Regions from separate parts of the Homo sapiens genome. Here region 1 is linked to region 2. The links come from fine-mapping of genetic effects on gene expression. A gene starts in region 2. The other region holds a variant in brackets. All regions are shown on one strand. Distances are between the middles of the regions. Region 1 overlaps UBAC2 (UBA domain containing 2). Region 2 holds the start of GPR18 (G protein-coupled receptor 18).

Region 1 (10,849 bases), 25 kb after region 2:
TGTTTTAAGAATACTTGCAGTTGTGAAATCATTTTTTTCTCCATTGATAGTTACCTCTACAATCATTCAGACATTTTATTAAGGCCATTTTACATTGTGTCATCCTCCAGCATCACTCTCTTACTTGAAATAAAATAGGCCTTGTAATCACTGTGCTCTATTGTCTCACTTTCTGGGCCTACTTACTGGGGCTTTGAGTATTTCAGGCACTCTTGCCCCATCCCCTCTGTCACCACCCGCAAGCCTCATCAAGCCTCTAATCTGGAGGTGGGTGGTGGTAAATGAGCAAGAGGGAACTTGCTTAGTCTCGGGATCCATCTGTAGGAACATAACGTTCTTCTAATATCTGCAGATACCCAGTTTCTGCAGGATAAATTTCCTCATGGTCTCCCCATAGAAGGGCCTTTCCTGCTGTTCTCGATGAGCAGATTAATGTAGGGCACAGGTCTTACCTTCTCCATGTTTTCCAGTTCTGCCTCTTGCATTGCACAGGATAAAGCTTTCCAGGACTAGGCACAGATAATTTCGGAAGCTAAGAAATAGCTGTGATGGTGACACCAACATTATTCTGTGGATTAATTTGGTTATTTAGACCTATTTAAAAGAATCCATTATAGGTATTTTATGTAATATTTTTCTTAAATTTGTAGTCCTGTGTGTGGCTTTCATTTGGGCTATGCTATTATTAATTAACTGTTACCACATTATTAATACATGTGGCAATAGAGTTGGTACCAGGCAGTGGTATTCACTTTCTCGGGCGCGTGAAGGGATTGCCTGTCTGGAGGTGAGGGCTAGTCAGAGAGTAGCAGCACACCTACAATCATCTGTGGTCATCTCGAATTGCAACCGTTGGAGTATTTTTAAGGGAAGTGGGTATTGTGGGCAAAGTTAGCAATAAGTGACAGTTAGCTTTCTAAATTATTGTGTCTCTGCTTTGAATTTGGGCTAAATAGCCAACATATAAATAATCATCATAGCTTGAAAAATGATCAGTGTCTTTAAAAGTGAAAAAAAGTGATATTTCTCAACCTAAAAATAGGACTACCTGGATCTCCAAATTTGAAGCGATCACATTAACATGTTTGGAATAATAGATTAGATAAGTTGAATGGATAGATATTTTAGATATCTTCTCTCCTTTAATTCCTATTTAAAAAATAAACTTTGTTGATAGGGTTATATCTGTTTTACTGGTACGAAAACATTTTTAGAGAGACTAAGAAATCTGTCCAGGAACATATAACTCAGTTGAAATTTTAACCTACATCACTTGAATCTAAAACCGCCATGCCTCCAAGTCAAGGTAAAGCAACAGAAACTGTCAGGCTTATGGTTCCTCATGATCATCAGTTTGCAGAGAATTATATTTCTGAGTATTGATTATAACAAATGTGTGTGAATGTTGACTTTCCTTCATGAGTTACTCAGTATTTATACTGAGAAAAGTAGACTTTAGTCTGCTGTTGTGTAGCCAAAGCCTTTGGATTTTAAGCTGTTCCCTTTCTCCTTCCTTTTCCCACCTCCCTCTCGGCTTGCCACCTCTTTTCTCCTTTTCCCCCTTTTCTTACCCCTTTATCTCCCCTGCTTTTGCACTGATCCCCACTCCTCTTCCCCTCCCAACAGTACCTACTGGTTTGGTTAGCCCTACCGGGGATTTTAGTAAATAAATACTTAAATGCTTGAATGTGATTGCACAGAGCAAAGTTGACTAATAAAAAGTTGATCAAAATTTGTATCTAGAATGAAGGATGTGAGAGAATAAACTGCCACCATTCAAGTGTTTCAAGAGAAGCTTAAAGGTAATTTTTTGCAGAAGCTGTCTTTGACTACCCCCACCCTCAGACTAGGTCACAGTCTCTTGTGATATGCTTTCTTAGAACATTTTTCTTTCTTATAGCACTCATCACTATAGATAGTAAATAAGATGTAACAAATGATTTGATACCTGCCACCTCCACTAGAATACAGACTTTGTGCCAGGAGGAGACTGTGTTAGTTTGTCTCACTAATGATGCCTCACTGCCTTAGCCTGTTCAGGCTCCTCTAACAAAATGCCCTAGACTGTGTGACTTATAAACAACCGAAATTTATTTCTCACAGTTCTGGAGGCTGAGAAGTCCAGGATCAAGGCACTGGCAGATTTGGTGTTTGGGGCTGTCTTTTCGTGGTGTCCTCACATGGCAGAAAGCAGAGAGTTCAATGGGTTCCCTTTTATAAGGGCACTAATCCTATTTGTGAAGACTCTACCCTCATGACCTAATCACCACTCAAAAGCCCCACCTCCTAAGAGCATCACACTGGGGGTTAGGATTTTAACATGTGAATTTGGAGAGGACAGAAACATTCAGTTGATAGCACTTGGTTAGCATAGTGGCTCCCACATAGTGGACACAACTGTGAGATGGATGGATTGATAGAGCAAATAGATTAATGAAAAGTATTTGATCTTTTGATTTCATCTCCTTTGGTTTGGACTATTGCTGTAGCCTCCTAACTGTTCTCCCTGTCACCATCTCAATGCCATCATCTGCACTGCCCCACTCCCCTAATTTTATCTACAAAGGAGATCTGGTCTTATTCCTTTACACCTTGAGAAATCTCCTATGGCTTCCTCCTGCTGTTTTATAAAGTTTAACTTGCTTGTGACACACCTCAGAGCTCCAGCCAATCTTCCCAGCCTCATTTTCTGTCATTCCTTCCTTGTACTCTGCATGTCAGCTAAATTGCATTACTCACTACTGCCTGTCACGCATACATCATTACAGATTTCTCTGGATTCATTTATTACGACAATTGTGGTTACAACATCCCTTCTCCCCTTTGCTTGACAAACTTCTACCAAGAAAACAAGGAGAACTTCAAGTGTCCCCTTGGGTAGCTCTGCTCCACGAAACCCTGCTCCAGCCAGAGTTGGAATTAACCTCTCCTTCCTTCTTGCTCCCAGTTAACTTTGTGCTTGTAAGTTATGTGAAACATTCATTACTTGAGATGGTAATTATTTACCTAATTGACCACTCTCTCAACTGGATGCTTTTGAAAGAGCAGGATCTTACTCTCTCTTACAGCTCCCTCAGCATGGAGTAGTGAAGAGTGTTCTTTAATACCAAAGGGACAAAGAAAGCTGACTGGGATCGGTCTGCCACATGCTAGTTGCTTCAGTTATTTTTTTGCACTAAATTATTGTGTCTCTGCTAATGTCCTTTTTCCTTTCTTCCTTCCCTCCCTTCTTCCTTCCTTCTTCTTTCCCTCTCTCTCTCTCTCTCTCTCTCTTTCTCACTCAGTAAGCTACCTCAAATCTGTTACTTAAGAGAAAAATGTAGGCTGGGCGTGGTGGCTCACGCCTGTAATCCCATCACTTTGGGAGGCCGAGGCAGGCAGATCACTTGAGGTCAGGAGTTTGAGACCAGCGTGGCCAACATAGTGAAACTCCATCTCTGCTAAAAATACAAAAATAAGCCAGGTGTGTTGGCGGGCACCTGTAATCCCAGCTACTTGGGAGGCTGAGGCAGGAGAATAGCTTGAACCCAGGAGGCAGAGGAGGTTGCAGTGAGATGAGATCACACCATGGTACTCCAGCCTGGGTGACAGAGCGAGACTCCATCTCAAAAAAAACAAAACAAAACAAAACAAAAAAAAACAACAGCAACAACAAAAAAGTATAAAAGTTGAATTTCACATTTGGGTTCAGTGATTTTTTTTTTTAAGGATTGAAATGTGGACTTATAAAATCATTTCCAGCATCTTACCTAAGAGAGAAGCATATAATCCATTCATTCTTATATTCACAAGATATCTCCTTTCTCAACCAAAAAGTTCTCACACTTTGGGCTCAGTTCAGTATTTGGGTGTTGGATACCATGTGTCCGGCATTGTACTTGGTACTATGTCACCTTGGTAGTCAGCAAGCACACGCCAGGCTCATCCCAGACACTCTGCAGGTGTGCCACTTTCTCTCCTTAGAACAGCCCTGGAAGGTGAGAACTCGCATCTACTTTGAGGAAACAGGCTCAGAAACCTTCAGCGCTATTTTCTATAAATTGATAAAAGAAAAATCATGATGTTAGAAGATACATAACAAGAGGAAGAGGCTTTTCTTGTCTCACTTATGTCTTGACATTGCCTGAGGACTGATTAGGAACTGAGATTGCCAATCATTTTAACAAGATTTTAGTAATGTTTGAAGATCTGTGCCTTCTGAATCAAAGTGGCGTGCAGAGGTACTTACCTTATGGATTGCTGGCTAATTGTGAAAGGAGACTCAGGCTTTTAACACTGCAGGAATTTCAAACTGCGGTCTCAGTGGCCAGAGTGTCTTACCAGGGAGCAGACCTAATGTATCCAGTTTAAAAGGGCGTGTAAGCTGTTGCCAGAAGTCTACATGAAGCCACATGATAAGTGATTTTGTATTTGAACATGAAGGGCAGTGGCATCATTGACCTAAGCTAGAGTTTCCTCACCCTCAGCACTTTTGACATTTTAGTTGCATAACCCTTTGCGGTGGGGGCGGTCCCGTGCACTGCAGGGTGGCTGGCAGCATCACTGGCCTCCACCCAGTGTATGCTGTTAGCAAAACCTCCTTTCCCCAGTCTTACCCCAGTCATGACAACTAAAAATGTCTCCAGATAATGCCAAATGACACT[T/TG]GGGGGGCAAAATCACCCATGATGGAGAGTCATGACATGCATGATGCTGGGTGGTAGATAGAACCCTGGAAAGAGTTAGCCCACACCCTTGAGGAGCTCATGACCTAGGAAGCTTGTTGAGAACTTTTGACTAGGTAGAATATTTCTAGTAGTTGACTGAAATAGCTTTGGTTGAGGCTATTAGTAAAAATTTGTTTTAAAGAGGTTTAACATCTGTTTTCATTTCTGCTTTTCTGAGTTGCTTTGCTGCTCAATTCCTTTTATTTTAGCTGTCTTCCTCTTGGGACTTCAAACATTTGAGTGTGTCAAAATTTCCAGTCTAATAGGAAATATGTTTTGTTCAAAAAGAAATAAAGATATTTATAACTGTTGGGCTAGAATGATGGAAGTTTAACGCTGGTTAAGTGAGACTCAGGTAACAGACAGCAAAGGAGATACTTTAATAGTGAAGGGAACTTGAAGTCTGGTTGTATTCAAGATTCACTTCCTGTTCTTGTTTATCACTGGAAAGTTGCACCTTGTGAAAGATTTTAGATTTAGATCATTGTATTGTTCTAAGAAAAAAAATTCAAAATGCTAACCATGTCTTGGTAACTATAGCAAAATATACAGCACACAAAAATAATCTCATACCTGTCTTAGGGTTGGATTTTTTGGTATATGTTATGTGTTGAGTTCTGAAATATCTAATGTGCTTGAAATCTAATGTGCTTTTGTTATCTGAACTAAAGGAAAAAGGCTTTGTCAGTTACAAGAGAATAGGCATCCCTGTTTTGGCTGGATTGTTAGTTGAAGTAATAGAATGAATTCTGGCTGATTCAGCAGAAAGGGAATTTATTAAAGTAGCTCAGAGAATATTTAGGAAGGCAAATAATCAGTCATGGGTACACCAGAGCTAGAATCAACACTTTACAGTTCTCTCTCCTAAAATTATTTTGTTTACTTACTTAATGTTTAATATTGGCTTCTAGGATGTAGGATTCAGAGAGCAACTTGGTCTGTGTGGTTTTCAGCTGTTATTCCAGTGTGTAGAATAGCAGCTGGTTCATAGAGACACTTGATAATTATTTGCTGTATAAATAAATGACAATACCAAGGATAGGTTTGTTAATATCAGTGACAATATGAAGGAAAAATATGGAGTAACATTATGAAATGTTAACATTACGCATTCCATTTGGAGATTTTTTTTTGACAGCAGGATTTACCCTTTCTCTTAAGAAATCTTAATAAATTTATATTGAACAATTTTGTACCGTAGAGCCTTGTTTGACATATGTTCCTGATTTAAATGAATAGCCAGATTTAAATGAATAGCCACAAGCAGACTTGCAAGAGTAGATGTTGCTATTGCTGTGTTCTACATGAGAAAGCTGAGGGTCTGAGGATTGAGTCACTAAGTGACGGCTACTTAAGTGGCAAGCCTGGATGGAAACTCATGCCTGTCTGAATTGTGGCTCAGACATTTCCTTAATGCCTTAATGCCACCTTTTTTTTTTTTTTTTTTTTTTTTTTTTTTTTTTTTTTTGAGACTGAGTCTTGCTCTTTTACCCAGGCCAGAGTGCAGTGGTGCTATCTCGGCTCACTGCAGCCTCTGCCTCCCGGGTTCAAGCTATTCTCCTGCCTCAGCCTCCTGAGTAGCTGAAATTACAGGCGTGTGCCACCACGCCCAGCTAATTTTTGTATTTTTAATAGAGACGGTGTTTCACCATGTAGGTCAGGCTGGTCTCAAACTCCTGACCTCGTGATCTGTCTGCCTTGGCCTCCCAAAGTGCTGGGATAACAGGCGTGAGCCACCACGCCTGGCCAATGCCACTTTATTTTTAAAGGTAAAACAGTCTAGTTAATGGTCACTATAGCAGGAAGCAACTTGAGCATTTTAACTTGCCAGACTGAGGCTGTGTATTTCAACTTTAGCAATGTAAATGTCCAAAGACAACTTATATGATTGTATTCAAACTTTGCTGCTAAAATAAGAAGTACAAATAAACACACAATGCAAAGAAAAAAAGTTCCAATTGGGGGGAAGTGCCCCCATGAATGGGGCCTGAAGAAGCACTATATGACACTCCAGTTATTTAGCTATTACTTGTATTTTCATTTAATAGACTGAAGAAACTGCTGTTTCTTTTCAGTAGCTACCAAATGCTGCCACTTATGTTTTATACTTTTTGAAAATTTTAAAATAGTTCTGGTTTATAGAAAAGTTGCAAGGATAAAACAAAGAACTCCCATATACCCTAAAACCAGATGCCCCCGTTATTAACATTTTCCGCATTTGCTGTTATCATTTTCTCTCTACACAGTATTTTTTCTGAATCATTTGAAAGCAAGTTGTAGACATAATGTCCCTTTGACTCCAAAATACCATGAGTATGTATTACTTTATTCACATCTGGCAATTGTCCAAATAATGTCCTTTATGGCAAAAAGGAAAATCAAAATTCTAGTCCATCGTCTGGTTCAGTATTACATGTTGCATTTCATTGGTACATCCCCTTACTGTTTAATCCGGACTGTTCCTCAGTCTGTCTTGGGCGACCTTGGCATTTTTGAAGACTGTAAGCCAGGACTTACAGAAAACGATACATATTCTAAGGCTGCTGGAAAATTAAAGTTTGTGAAGGTGAAGCAGTAGATGAAAATAATGTGTAGTTTTCGTATTTCTCTTGGAATAACATTTTATAACTTTTTCATGAAAAATTTCAGTGACACAAGCAGAGAGAATAAAATGAGCCCTATTACCCAGATTCAGTAATTAACATTTTTGCTATCCTCTTTCCATTCCCTGGCATTTTAAAAGTATTTTGAAGCAATTTCCAGACATCATAATATCATATTTCATATTTCAGAAAGCTCTAAAATGGCATTTCTTATATAACCATAATGTTACCTTACCTAACAAAATTATTCATAATTCTGTAATATTATTTACTACTGAAACTACTGTTTCCACATTTATCCTATTAGCTTGGAAATGCCCTTTTACATTTGCTTTTGCATTCGATTGTGGTGTGTCTTAAGTAGCTGCTGCTGCTGCTGCTGCTCCTCCTGCTCCTCCTCTTCCTCCTCTTCTTCCTCCCTTTGGTAGAGTATTTTTGTACTTTATTAGAATGGTATGGTGGGTATACTAGATTAACTGGCTCATTATTTATTATTACCTTTCTTCTTTTTTTTTTTTTTAAGAGACAATTGTCTTGCTCTGTCACCCAGGCTGGAGTGCAGTGGTGCGATTGTAGCTCACTGTAACGTCAAACTTCTGGGCTCAAGGGATCCTCCTGCCTTAGCCTCCTGAGTAGCTAGGACTACAGGCATGTGCCACCACGCCCAGCTAATTCTTAATTTTTTATAGAGACAACGTCTCGTTATGTTGCCCAGGCTGGTCTCAAACTCCTGGCCTCAAGTGACCCTCCTGCCTTGGCCTCCCAGAGTGTTGGGATTATAGGCATGAGCCACCATGCCCGGCCAGCTGGCTCATTATCTGTTCCAGGGTTCTCCTAGTGTACTTCCCATAAAGCAGAGGTTGGAAAGCTGAATGCTCTATTTCTTAAACTCCCTTGCCTGGAGTTCTGGATATGATTTAGGTTCCATTATTCAGAAAAACGTGTGGCTCTTGAATTCAGTATGAGCCAAGGCATATGAGATAGCCATTTTCCTGGTGCAGTTCTACACATCCAACGGGGTGCCAGAGTTCACAGTTCAACTCCCTGAAACTCCCTGATCCCTAGACTCTGCCAAAGTGGTTTGACCTTGGAGCTCACAGTTGATGTAATTAACTTTTGTGATTTCCCAGCTGCCTCAGTGTGTCAGAGGAAACAGTTCTCCTGGTAGACCAGTCCTTATGTGTTCCAGGAGTCTATTCCTGGAGGCGCTGGATCTGGCCTTCTAGCCTTTTCAGCAATTGTATAAGCACCGAATTCTGTGTACTAAATCTGCTGCCCAAAATAGCTGACAAGATTTCTGTTATCTATAACTGAACCTTGGCTGACAGAACTGCTAATCAAAAGAATGTAACATTTATATTTGACTTCAAATGTATATATACAAAGCAACATACCTGGATCTGAAACATTTAGATTTGAACTGGGACATAGTTCTTCCTTGTGGTCCTTTGTGTTAGGAGATCAAGTTCCTCAAAGAACATTGTGTGTGTGTTTATGAAGCCTTGCTGATCTTTTCATGTGGCTTTCTGGTATAACCTATTCTTTGCTGGTGACTTTGTTACCACCAGCCATCTCTTATTAGGACTTCTTTTTTTTAATATTTATTTATTTTTAATTTTTTTCCCACTTTTAGGTTCGGGGGGTACATATGCAGGTTTATTACATGGGTAAATTGTGTGTCACTCAGGCTTGGGGTACAAATGAGCCCATCACCCAGGTAGTGACCATAGTACCCCATATGTGGCTTTTCAACCTCCATCACCCCACACTCCCCCAACAAGCAGTCCCCAGTGTCTATTCTGTTGTTCCTATCTTCGTGTCCATGTGTATTCAATGTTTAGCTCCCACTTATACGTACAAACATGCAGAATTTAGTTTGCTGTTGCCACGTTATTCTTAGGACTCCTTGAAGGTCTGCTGAGACTCCCCTCACATGTAACCTTAGAATGTGGCCAGTGCGCGTCCCATTCTCCTATGATTTGAATTGCTGTGCTTAACTGATTGGAGATGGAGACTGGTAACTGTGTCTCAGTTCTTTCTGAATCCATCCCTGAATTTCTGCCTCTACCCCCGATGTAACAAGAGTAAGGGCATGTGTTAGAGAACATACTTACCATTTTTAGAAATTTATTACAGAAATTTTCAAATATACATAAATACAGAGAGAATGGTATAATGACTACCATGTACCCATCACCTTTTAATCATTTTTTCAAACACACAAACTTCAAATAATTTGACAGTTGGATCCCTAATGGGACACTGGTTTCCATTTTTCATTTTACCATGTGGTTCCTAAAATCTGCATGGTGTTAGCCTGCAGTGTCCCTCAACCCTGCCCTTGCCTCAGATTTGCCAGTATCTCTACGGGCCTCCCCAGAGGCCTGAGTGTCAGGTGCAGGCACAGGCAGGTACCAGGTTTCAAGTAGAGCTCATAGGAGATTGTTGGGACTGAGAACCAGGATTGCCTTGATCTCTTGTCACATGTGTATCAGGCCTGTGGGTCTGTTTTGATAATGTCGTCTTCTTAACTGCTGTTCTTTTTTTTTTAAATTTTGAGACAGGGTCTCACTCTCACCCAGGCTGAAGTGCAGTGGCACGATCATGACTAACTGCAGCCTTGACTTGCTGAGCTCAGGTGATTCTCCCACACCAGCCTCAGTTCTTTCTGAACCCATCCCTGAACTTCTGCCTCCACCCCATGTTGTAACAAGAGTAAGGAAAAATATCTTTCTTTCTTCTTTTTTTTTTCTTTCTTTTTTTTTTTTTTTTTTTTTGGTAGAGACGAGGTTTCGCCATGTTGCCCAGGCTGATCTCCAATTCCTGGGCTCAAGTGAGCCTCCTGTCTCAGCCTGCCAAAGTGCTGGGATTATAGGCGTGAGCCACCACGTGCAGCCTTAACTGCTGTTCTTTTAACAAACCAATAATGTTCAACTTTAGGACCTTCTTGCCCTTGCTCCCTTACTGGGGAAAATAATAAGCAATAATACATGAAATGGCACTTGCATATACTTTCATTACTCTCTTGAACATATAATATATGATATGCTAAAACATACTGTTTGCATTTATTTTTATAGGCTAATATAGGCAGTAACCTTATACATTTTTACTATGTAGCCCCTGCCAAAAAATTTGATACTTCATGCCAGGACTTGATGGGAAAATTGTGGGACTGCTGCCCTCAAGCAATAAGAACGTATCAAAATGTTACTTTTTTTAGATTAGGTCTCAAACCTTTTGTAGCCTCCATGTAGTTTCATTCTGACACACTTTTTTCTTCTCAAAATCTGCCTGGGAAAAGTCATTCTTGTACAGAAACCAGAAATAAATGTTTTAACACTCTGAGAAAATGGATAAAAGCCAATCAGAAAAGCACTTGAGTTCTTGTTTTGGATCAGTTGCAGTAGGTGCCATGTGGGGCAGAAAGTAACGTGGCCCCTGCTCTGGAGTGGTTTTCAGTTGAGTGGACAGGATGTCTAAGAGCATTACTAACTACGAGAAGCCACACAGTTAGCATGCAGATAGACAACAGCTTTAAAA
Region 2 (10,849 bases):
ATTTTTACATATTATGTTTAAATGTATTTGGTTATAATGCTAAGTAAATTATTTAAAAAATAACTTTTAAGTGATCTACAATTAAATTATAATTTAAATTATTTACAGTTTTACTGTGAGAATCACAGCATACATTTTCACTTTCTTGATTTTGTATCAATAGAATCTTTTGTTGTGCTTTTTGCTCTGAGACTAAACTCTTCTTATCAAGACAAGCTATGGCAGAGAACTTTTCCATCTAATAAATTTAAGAGTAGATTCATCTGTATGGTTGAGAGTAGGCTCTGACTATGTATATGTGTATAATAAACCTACATATCCAATACAAGAGTTGTTTTTCTTGTTTTAGAAATAATTATATGTTAAATATATGTAAGATATACAAATAATATATAAAGATATAATATCTATAAAGGTACTTTATGTATATAAAATATAAAAATATATATATTTTACTCATTTGACTATTGAAACTAAAAACTGTGTTTTTCTCTTTATTGAGAAACTGCATCTCAGTACCACCTTATGTAGCTCTGAGAATGTTTACATTCTTTAAGCATGTTTGCTTTTTATTATTGAAAAATTGGTGTTTGACATGAAAGAACTGACCTTGGTTTCTAGGTGTGGTTCTTGAGCTGAGCAAGTCACATAACCTCTTCAGACCTCAGTTTTTTATATTTCGAACAGAAGAATTGTACTAAGAAGATTGTCTAAGGGACCTTCTAGTGCAAAAATGCCATTTTATTATTAGACTTTTTGTGTTTATCTTTTTTTTTAAGGAATATGAATTTACCTATGTTATTTCCAGAAATTAATTTCTTTTTTTTTTGAGACGGAGTCTCGCTTTGTCACCCAGGCTGGAGTGCAATGGCGCAATCTCGGCTCACTGCAGCCTCCGCCTCCTGGGTTCAAGCTATTCTCCTGCCTCAGCTTCCCGAGTAGCTGGGATTACAGGAACCTGCCATCATGCCTGGCTAATTTTTGTATTTTTAGTAGAGATGAGGTTTCACCATATTGGCCAGGCTGGTCTCGAACTCCTGACCTCAAGTGATCCGTCCACCTCAGCCTCCCAAAGTGCTGGGATTACAGGCGTGAGCCACCACGCCCAGCCAGAAATAAATTTCTAACCAATGCATGTATTTGGTTCTAAGCCCCAGTAGGATATGATCATGTTAAGAGTGATAAAGGTAATTTAGCAGAGAGGAAGTTATAGTTGAATCATTTATTTTACTTCCATAAGTATTCAGGATAATAGGGGCTTTACAGATTATAGTTCAGTTTTTTTCTTTTAGATGGATAAGTTACTTGGTTTGTTACTTTATTAGGAGAAATTAAATGGCAAGGCTAAGAAATCCAAGGTTCCTACTAGTACTATTTATACTGTGACATATGGCCTGGGAAAAAAAATCAATTAACTTCTTTTGTAAAAATGGTATCTTCAACCACATAAGAAGAGCAAACTGTTTGTATTGGAGAATGGCATTTCACCATATAGTAGAAACCTCAAATGATAGAAATGAACTTGGATTATTGGATAGAAATAGCATCTCAGGTTAGATTTTCATCATTAGTCCTAAATAGGGTTTGGTGCATAGTAGGCTCTCAGTGTTTGTTGAATGACTATTCTCTGTTTTTAAAAGAATGAATTCAGAGTAGGGAAGGGCTGATGGGGATGGCTGTAACAGGCCCCTTGGGTTCTTGTTGCTATTAATTTTGCCTTGTAGTAAGTAACAGTAATGAGTTCAACATAATTTCTTATATAGGAATTCTGGAAGTCAGTGTTTGGGACATAAAGTATTGGATTTATAATTCCATTCCTAGTGCAAATTAGACCTAAGGGAGCTGCATCTAGATAGAAAATAATTTAATCAAATTATTTTGTATGGTAGCTCGATTTCCCCCCTACTGACTTGATTAACACACATGTGTCGCTTGCACATAGAAATGCAAAAAGTTAATTATCTGTGTGAACAAGGCTTGACTAGGAAAGAAAAATCAGATGCTTTTCTCTGAATAATTCACAAAAATGTTTTATATAAGTTTTTAAAATGAAGATAATGAATTTATTTTTTCAAGAGAAAAGGGACTTGATAGTATTATACAGAATATCCATTGACGCCAGAGTAGTTAGTGAAGTGAATTTTGATGGGATTGAAATGAAAGAACCTTATTATTCATAACATTTCACTGTTTATATTGCTTAGTGACCGTAGACTACCAGATCGGAAACTTTTTCTGCGCATGCTTCGAAGGTAATTACGGTATAGCATGACACTAATGACTCGAGCCTGAAATTGTTTTGAAACGATGTAGTAGAGAATCACATCCAGACACGTGCTGAGGTTCATGAGGAAGGTGGTAAAGGCTCCCCAGGGATTGTAACTGTTCTCCCCCGTTCCCAGCATCAGGAAAGCGAAACAGATGTGGAAGGGCATAAAGCAGACGAGCACCTGCACCAGCAGCGTGATGATGATCCTTATGGACTTCTCCTTGACTTTGGGTTTCAGCTTAGACGTCCTGCCGTGAAGGAGATTATGAATAATGACCAAGTAGCACCCAATCATGATGAACAAAGGAATCAAGAAAAAAAATGTCAGTCGAGTGAGGTTCAGCACGTTCACAGCTTTTAGATAGATGATGTCAGAAATCTTGAGGCAGGTGGCGGGAGTGGAGTCTTTATCTGGGTCTTTATAGAGCAGTAGCAGAGGGGTGGTCGTGGTCAGGGTCATTATCCAGACTCCCACACACGCCAGCACGGCTTTGCACGTGTTTTTAAGTTCTTTGGCGTACTTCGGCTGTACAATGGCCATGTATCTGTCAGCACTAATAAAGGCAAGAAGCCATAAAGCAATGCTTGGGTAAAACACTGTGAGAGCTCCAAGAATCTGGCAGAAGTACTCTCCAAATGGCCATTCATCTTTTGCATAATAAAACATTCGAAAGGGTAAAGTCATTATAAATATCAAGTCCACTAATGCCACATTCATCATATAGATGGTTACCGTGGTTCTCTTCTTGGTGGTACAACTGAAAACCCATAATGCAGTGATGTTAACAAATAATCCAATTATGAAGATACAGCTATAGAAGACAAGGGCTGCAATTTTGTATTCATCTGGATGTGAGCTGTTAAAAGGGACAGGTTGATCTTGATTGTTCAGGGTGATCATTTTACAGCTTGTTGGTAGGCATGATACTTAGAAACTGTAAAAATAGTTAAGAAAAATAAGAATAAAATCGTTGGTTAAAAAATAAATGCTTAACATTCTCCCACTCAGCTTGACTGCCAGTGAATTTTAAGTTCGAGAGCATTTAATCAAGGAACGATTCAACTGGTTAACTACTGAACATTCACAGTAATTCTCATTTGAGAGAGAATGGGAACTTTTCCTTTGTTACAGCTATAGCCCCACTGTCTATTGAGCATGTAATAGGTACTCAATAAATAAATATTTACTGAATTGATGAATAAATGAAGGAACTTTTGATGAGATGATTCACAGCAACTCTACTTTGCTAAAAAACTCTAGTTTGTAATTCTCTAGTTTGAAAATGAAGACTTGTGTAGCTGGCTATTAAACTTTTTGTTTTTTTTAAAGTGGAAACACTTCATAATATTTATTACCTTATGTTCTCTTTAAATTATCATAGGTTGAGAAACAGCAATGTTTTGTGTCATGGTCAGCAGATCAAGAACTAGACTGTTAGAGCAATAGATGAGCTGTTTTCTAGTGCACAATTGGGAGTACGTAAAGCCAAGTCTTCCAGGTTTTGTGATTTCAGCTGCTCTACTTCAGTGGTTCACAGAAAGCAGCACCTTGAAAAAAGCTAGTGCCGTTAGTAACTTTCATATCCTCATTCCATCTAGATTCAGAAGCTTCAATATTATTTAAATTTTAACAATTTTCAAAGTAAATCCAAAAAAGGAGTATCTAAGACAAGTAGATATTAATAAGAAGTCATTCAGTAACTTGATGTGTATGTAGAAACTTATAAATTTCCATCACCAAAAAAAAAAAAACCGTCCATTTTAAATGGAAAGGAGGTTATTTGGGGTTGCAAATATCATTGACTCCTCAGTGTGAAACTTCATTCCCCCATGATGCAACACCAACAACAGACTTCAAAAATAGACTTTGCTGCAATGAGATGGAATCTGTGGCATCCCCTTGTAATATGGAGGTGGATGAAAAGTTTCCTTCAAAAATGTCACTTTGCAGAGTGGGCTGTCTTGAAATCAGCCCAGAATTTCTCTTTAAGGAAAACTATGGGGGAGATTTGCTGTCTGTGGTCAGTGGCATCACGGGCTATTGATAATTAAGAATTAACTTGAGCAATTGCTGTGGTTAAACACAAGAAACGTGCCTGTCTGCCTTCCTTCCTTTCCCTTCCCTTCCCTTCCCTTTCTTCCCTTCTTCTCCTTCTTTCCTTCTCAAATATTTAGGTTAAATATGATTTAGGAGCATAATTCTATATATTTAAAAACATATTAAATTTTCCAAATATTGGTGTGACTAGAATATTAATTTCTATCAAATGAGGAAAGTGCTACAGAGAAAAATTATATCTCTAGTGTCATTCAAAGGAGAGTAATCTTGGAGGCTTAAATCTTATTTTTAACTGGAATGCATTCTTATTAAATAGTAGCAATTATAATATAAATGAAATTTTGTATTTGTTTTTCTTTTTTTAGTATTGCATCAGGACTCCCTTCACCTATCCTCATCCTTCAATTTTGTGACATAAGTCCTGTACTTACAAACCATCTTGAGTCTTTTTTCCCACGTTATGCTCAAGCTGTTTTTATGTAGCTTGTCACCAATACTTATATTCATTTGCTGACGTTTGAAAAAAAATGAGTGATGCATGTGTTTTAAAGGCATTATAGTATTGATTGTGCTCTGCAAACACAGAAATTTTTGGATAAATATTGAAAAGTGATTGACTTTAAAGTCAGCTTTTTAAAAGCTATAGATACCATGATTATCTGTAGCTTTTCTTTTCTTAAAAACCATTAAGTTATTTCATGAAACAATGTAATTGAAAACATGTGATGAACATTCCTAAATATACATATGATTTACCATAAACATTTTCTTTCCTTAAGTTGAAAAAAATTACATTTAGTATTAATGTAAAGCAATATTGAAAATAAATGTAAAATCATATTAATGTGGAAAGATGATTATATAGCCTATTTCAAGGTCTTTCACCAACATAGTTTGTTATGTTTATTTTTTTAATTAAATATATTTTTTTAATAGAGACGGGGTCTCACTATGGTGCTCCTGGGCACAACTGATCCTCCTGCCTTGGCCTCCCAAAGTGTTGGAGTTACAGGCGTGGGCCATTGCGCCCAGCCTGTATTATTAAAATGAAATGATTTTTGAAATGCAGTACATAAAGCATTACTTTTGACAATAATCATGAAGTTAATTAAATGCTGCTTACCTCCTGTCCATCAAAAGTCTGTGTGAGAGATGAGCATTTTTCAGCACTTCCACTTCTGTCGAAGGGATATCTTTGAGTTGCTTCTGTTAAAATAGCTCTTTCTGGAAACAGTGTATTTAAGAAATGTTGTATTTTGTTTTAGACTCTTTTGTTGCTTTAAAAAGTAGTTTCCAGTGTAACGCTTGGCGTCGGAGTTGGTGCTGGGCTGACTTTAATTGCTGCTTTGTCTCTTTCAGGAAGTGCTCTCTGAAATAGGCTTTTTCACCTTATGACTTTACCCTGGATGTGGTTTTTCTCTTTCACAAATGATTTGTTTATGAAGTCACACTTAGCATAAGCTCCCCTTGAAATGATGGCATATATTTAAGATAATTATATACAAAGGATAAAGTTTCTTCAGTTTGTGTACTTTGATGCTTGAAGTCTGCATCATCTATGGAAAGAGAAGATTTGATATTGAGTAAAAGGGGGTTTAAAGTCTAGCTTCTTTGCTTTATAAGCTATGTGACTTTGTCTAGTTACCTACCCACTCTGACTAACCCTTTGTTCCTACTTCATTTCTGTACAGTTGAAATAGAGATAATACTATATCCAGTAGGATTGTAGGGGCCCTAAACCAGAAAGATCCCAAGTGCTTAATAGTACCTGGCACTTAGTAGGTACTCCTAAATGGAGTCTCACTTTTTACTACCAAGTTATTAAAAATCATAGAATATCCACATTTCCACTTTTTACTATTTAAACATTTCTAAATGCTTAAAAGTAGGATCCTTGATTAATTGCTTCTGCTTTGCCACATACATTTATCCACTTTAGTTTGCTGTATTTTGTAAGTCTGCTTTTCTAGTGCGTGGAAGTCTAGAAATAATTTCTTTTGCATAAAAATTTCTGCAAATCTTAGCAGAAAGGACTCTGAAGTCTTTAGTGGACTGATTTACATATTAAGAGTGTTTTCACCTAAGAAGGGAAATGAAACCAGCAGAAAGGGAAGTGAGCAACGAATCGCTGCCTGCCTTGTTAGGTTAATTTTGTTTTACTTTCTCATTTCTTAAAAAAAATTATCTCTCATTTGCTTATCCTAAAATTTTAATTATCTTTATGTTTGGTTATGCATGGTTTGTCAACTTTTTAAAGGGTTCATGAACTTAAATGTATTTGTTTTTTTGAATTTTAGACAGTTTGGGGTCCATCCTTTTTTTTTTTTTTCTCAGACAAAACCATAGTAAATCTGTGGCTTAGAAAAGTTACTTAAATCCTTGCCTTTGGTGATAAAATACTTTTGATTGTTACAACCTGCCAGAATGATGGGTTTTAGAAGTGTTGGAGACAACCATAGCAACTATTTCTTGTGTGGATGAAGAAATTGAAGGCCAGTTACTTGCTTAAGAACTCAAGGTAAAGCCAGGTCCAGTTTCTCCCGCTGTAATAACTTCTTATGAGGTAATTATATTGATCTGTCCACTAGATAGGACTTCTTATGGCTGAATCACATTCATCAGTTTTTTATATGTGATGTTATATTTCATTCATCACACAGGAGTTTGATGTTTCAGCTGGACAGAAATCTGCCTGCATGCAGACCTAATCTGTCCTTTGCCTTATTCACATAGCTTAGGACTTTTCTAAAATTAAGTATTGATTAGCTTCCCCATTGCTGCTAAAATCAACAGATACATTGATGGCATGTGTCTAGAAGAGTCCTTTCATCAAGACTTGAATTCTTCACGGTGCACAGGGGCATTCTTGTTTCTGAATTGCCAGACTCTTAGAGGAGGCATCCAGGAGCACCTGAGGGCTCTCCATAGGCCTGGCTTCAGGTTGGGGTGAGCTCTCACTTTTTCCTCATCTTGCTCTCCATTCCAGCCCTCTGGACTGGCTACATTTGCTCTTCCTGCCTCTCACATGCTGTTCCACCCACTGTGGCATTCCTCACCACTGTCTCCCACCTGATGGCATGGCCTGCTGCTCTTTGTTCTTGTAGCTACCTTTTTCAGGAAGCTTTCTCTGCCATCCGAAGCTGGGCTGGTTTCTCTGCCCTCCGAAGCTGGGCTGGTTGTTCATCCCTGCAGGTTTCCTTAGCACTTGGTACCTATCCCTGTAGTGGCACATGTTTGCATTGTTACTGCATATTTACTTGCTTTTTCTCCTCCACTAAATTGCATTCCTTGAGAGTTGGCATGTGTTGCATATGTGTGTAGAGAAGAGGCATTTAATATTGGTTGAATTTCTGACTGAACAAGTAGGTGAAGAAATGGAGAGGTTGGGGGAGGAATGGATAAATGTCTGGGCCTTGAGTCAGCAGGCAGGGACACTTTGACCAGCTTATGAGATGGGGAGACTTAGGCAAGGGCCTGAGGTCTGTCGTCCTCCCCTGCAACCCATGAGCCCTATAGCATTGACCCCCGTTCGCTGTGCTCCTGGATCTTCGCGATGGTTTTGTGTTGGCAGGGAATTATAGTGAAAAGAAACTGCCCAGTCATTTGACAGCAAGTAAACAATGGGTCAAGGATTCAACTTGTATAATGTAGACACAAGTTTCTTTAATACTTGAACCTAATGAATTTTTTTTTTTCCCCAAACAGAGGAACTTATTCAGGGACCATTCATGCAGCTTTAATTTCTTCACTTACTTTGGAATATGAGTGAAGGAGAAATGTTTCACTTGCAAAAGAGGGATTTTACTTATTCCCAGAGACTGCAAGATTCCCTTTGCTTTATCAAATAGTGTGTTTTAGCTGCAGTTTTGGGTTTTGGTTTTGATATTAAAAGCCATAAGTGAATTTTGATTTTAGCCCTATAAACCAGTTTTTGAGTGAATATAATTCAGTTAAGCCAGTTTTTAATGAGAAAGAATGTAGTTAATAGATCTGTATAGCAAATTCCCACTATAAAATATGCTTCTATGTTAGACATTTGTCTATGCCACAGGTAAAATAATATTTCCTGTTCTGTTAGCATAGCAAGTGTGAGGGCAGCTTATCCTTGTTGCCTCCCATCAGTGCGGGGACCAGGGGTCCACTGTTGTTACTGTTCATGTATCCCAGCAGGGGGACAGTCAGCACACAGCCAGTCCCCAGGGAGAAGAGGGTGTGAGGCAGACAAAGAGTCCTCTGAACTAGAGGAGAGGCCTATCCTTTGGCCTTGACATCCTCCAACCTTTGTCCCCTCCTTTCTGTTTCTCAAACTTGTATCTAAACTGACTGCTCTTTGGGTGTGGGTGTAGGGGAGATATGTTGAATAGTAAGAGTTTCTGCATAAAGAAGATTGAGAAACTATTTGTCTAAATGTGTGGTTTTTCTTAAGTCCCAACAATTTACAGCTATAATCTTCTAACCCAGTTAGTATACCTCCTTTCTGTTTGGTTTCCTAAATTGTATTGTAAATTTAATATTCCCAAATTTCTTGTCTTTAGCAATTTTTGTGTGTAGTTTTAAAGATGTATAGACATGTAGACATTCAGACACTTAACCTCACAGCAAACAAGTTGAATCCATATCTAACCATATATAAGTGATGGCAGTGAAATCAGTCCTGGAACCACTGAAGTCCCATGGGACCCCAGGCCCAGAGTTTGCAGTGTGACATTTTACTATTGGAAGAGAGATCCAGAGTCGCCAAGGCAGCAGATTGAGCAGAACTCCATGGTTATTGTGAGGCACACAGCCTTCTGCTGCACATTCTGATCTCACAGTTACCAGAGGTGCAAATGGAGATGGGTATACAGTAGTCCCCTTATCCGCAATTTTGCTGTCTGAGGCTTCAGTTACCTTCAGTTACCTTCAGTCAAATATGGTCTGAAAATATTAAATGGAAAAATTCCAGAAATAAACAATTCATAAGTTTTCTGTTGCATGCCATTCTGAGCAGCAGGATGAAATCTCTCACTGTCCCGCTCCTTCCTCCCCAGGACATGAGTCCTCCCTTTGCCCAGTGTCTCCACACTGTAGACATTCCCACTCATTAGTCACTTTCATAGCCACCTTGGTGATCAGGTTTACTGTCACAGTGTCACAGTGCTTGTGTTCCAGTAACCCTTATTTAATTAATAATGGTCCCAAAACACAAAGGTACTGAGCCTAATGTATAAGTTAAACTTTATCATAGGTATGTATGTACAGGAAAAAAATAGTAAGTATAGGGTTTGGTACTATCTGCAGTTTCAGGCATCCACTGGGGGTCTTGGAATGTATCCTCTGAGAATAAGGGGGAACCACTGTATAGTTAACACCTAGTAATATGAGGAAGTGCATTTCAGAAGAAAGAGGAGGGCTGGGCACGGTGGCTCATGCCTGTAATCCCAGCACTTTGGGAGGCTGAGGCGGGTGGATCACCTGAGGTCAGGAGTTCGAGACTAGCCTGGCCAACATGGCAAAACCCTGTCTCTACTAAAAATACAAAAATTAGCTGGGCATGGTGGTGCGTGCCTATAATCCCAGCTACTCAGGAGGCTGAGGCAGGAGAATCGCTTGAACCCGGGAGATGGAGGTTGCAGTGAGCCAAGAATGCAGTGAGCTGAGGCTGAACTCCAGCCTGGGCAACAGAGCAGAACTCCCTCTCAAAAAAAAAAAAAAAAAAAAAAAAAAAAAAGGACTTGTGGAAGGTAAAGGAACAAGAGATGTGTTATCAGGTTATTTAAACATAAACCTATATAATAGTGTGTGTGGTTGAGGATTTTAGTACACAGCCATTTGTATAGTAAAAGTAAACATGTATCTATAAGGTTGAGGGTTGTTGGTTTAAGACAAGTTACTTAGGATTTTTTATTATATCTGCCATTATTCTTAACTAAATTATGAAAGGTAATCAGAGGTGACTGTCAGGCATGATTCTGAGAGCCTCACATGCTTGAGCTAACTTAACCTTCATGCTGACTGCAAAGTATGTAGTTTACATGGTGTGACCCAGAAATATTTACTCATGACTCTCAGATTGTATGTTCTTTCTGTATTTTGCATTATAATATTATACTTCGTTTTAGTAATTTTTGTTGAAGTTGGCCCTACTTAATAGAGAATCATCATAAATGGTAATTTGACTTATAGCAAACAATCTCCTGAGGGAATAGACCATCTTTTTATCTCCCTGTTTCTTGCTAATGAGTTGATATTCTCAAGGAAAGGTTTTATAGCTGGATCCTGGCAGCTCGTACATGTAATTGTGGTGTCTGGGATCTCTGCCATTCCATGGCCAAAAGACTTGAACAAGCACTTAAGAATGAGTAGATCCAAATGGTCAGCAACATGTAAATCTGCTCAACTTTTTATTAATAATTGGGAAAATGAAAATTAAAACCACAGCAGGGTATTATCCATTCGCCAGAATGCCTACGATGAAAAAGACGGACAGTGCAAAGTGCTGGCAAGGATGTTGAGTGATGAGGGTATCGAGTAACAAGGAA

What was found. PIP is the estimated chance that this variant, and not a neighbour inherited with it, causes the effect.
Region 1: its variant is fine-mapped to the expression of GPR18 in whole blood (TOPMed, PIP above 0.99).

The regions. Positions count from the first base shown.
Region 1 is chr13:99,277,582-99,288,430 of GRCh38, forward strand. All of the region lies in intron 4 of UBAC2 (UBA domain containing 2), which reads left to right. Among named protein-coding and RNA genes, the nearest start is that of GPR183, 24 kb to the right of the region's middle. The variant T/TG (reference allele first, on the strand shown) is at 4,644.
Region 2 is chr13:99,252,703-99,263,551 of GRCh38, forward strand. It overlaps GPR18 (G protein-coupled receptor 18), which reads right to left and starts at 5,677. Exons shown (of 2, transcript NM_001098200.2): 1 at 5,452-5,677; 2 at 2,037-3,204. The coding sequence starts at 3,170. The coding sequence ends at 2,175. All of the region lies in intron 4 of UBAC2 (UBA domain containing 2), which reads left to right. It overlaps LOC124903198 (a long non-coding RNA gene), which reads right to left and starts at 9,002. Exons shown (of 3, transcript XR_007063846.1): 1 at 8,921-9,002; 2 at 7,437-7,546; 3 at 5,737-5,884. RefSeq lists a silencer at 9,597-9,819.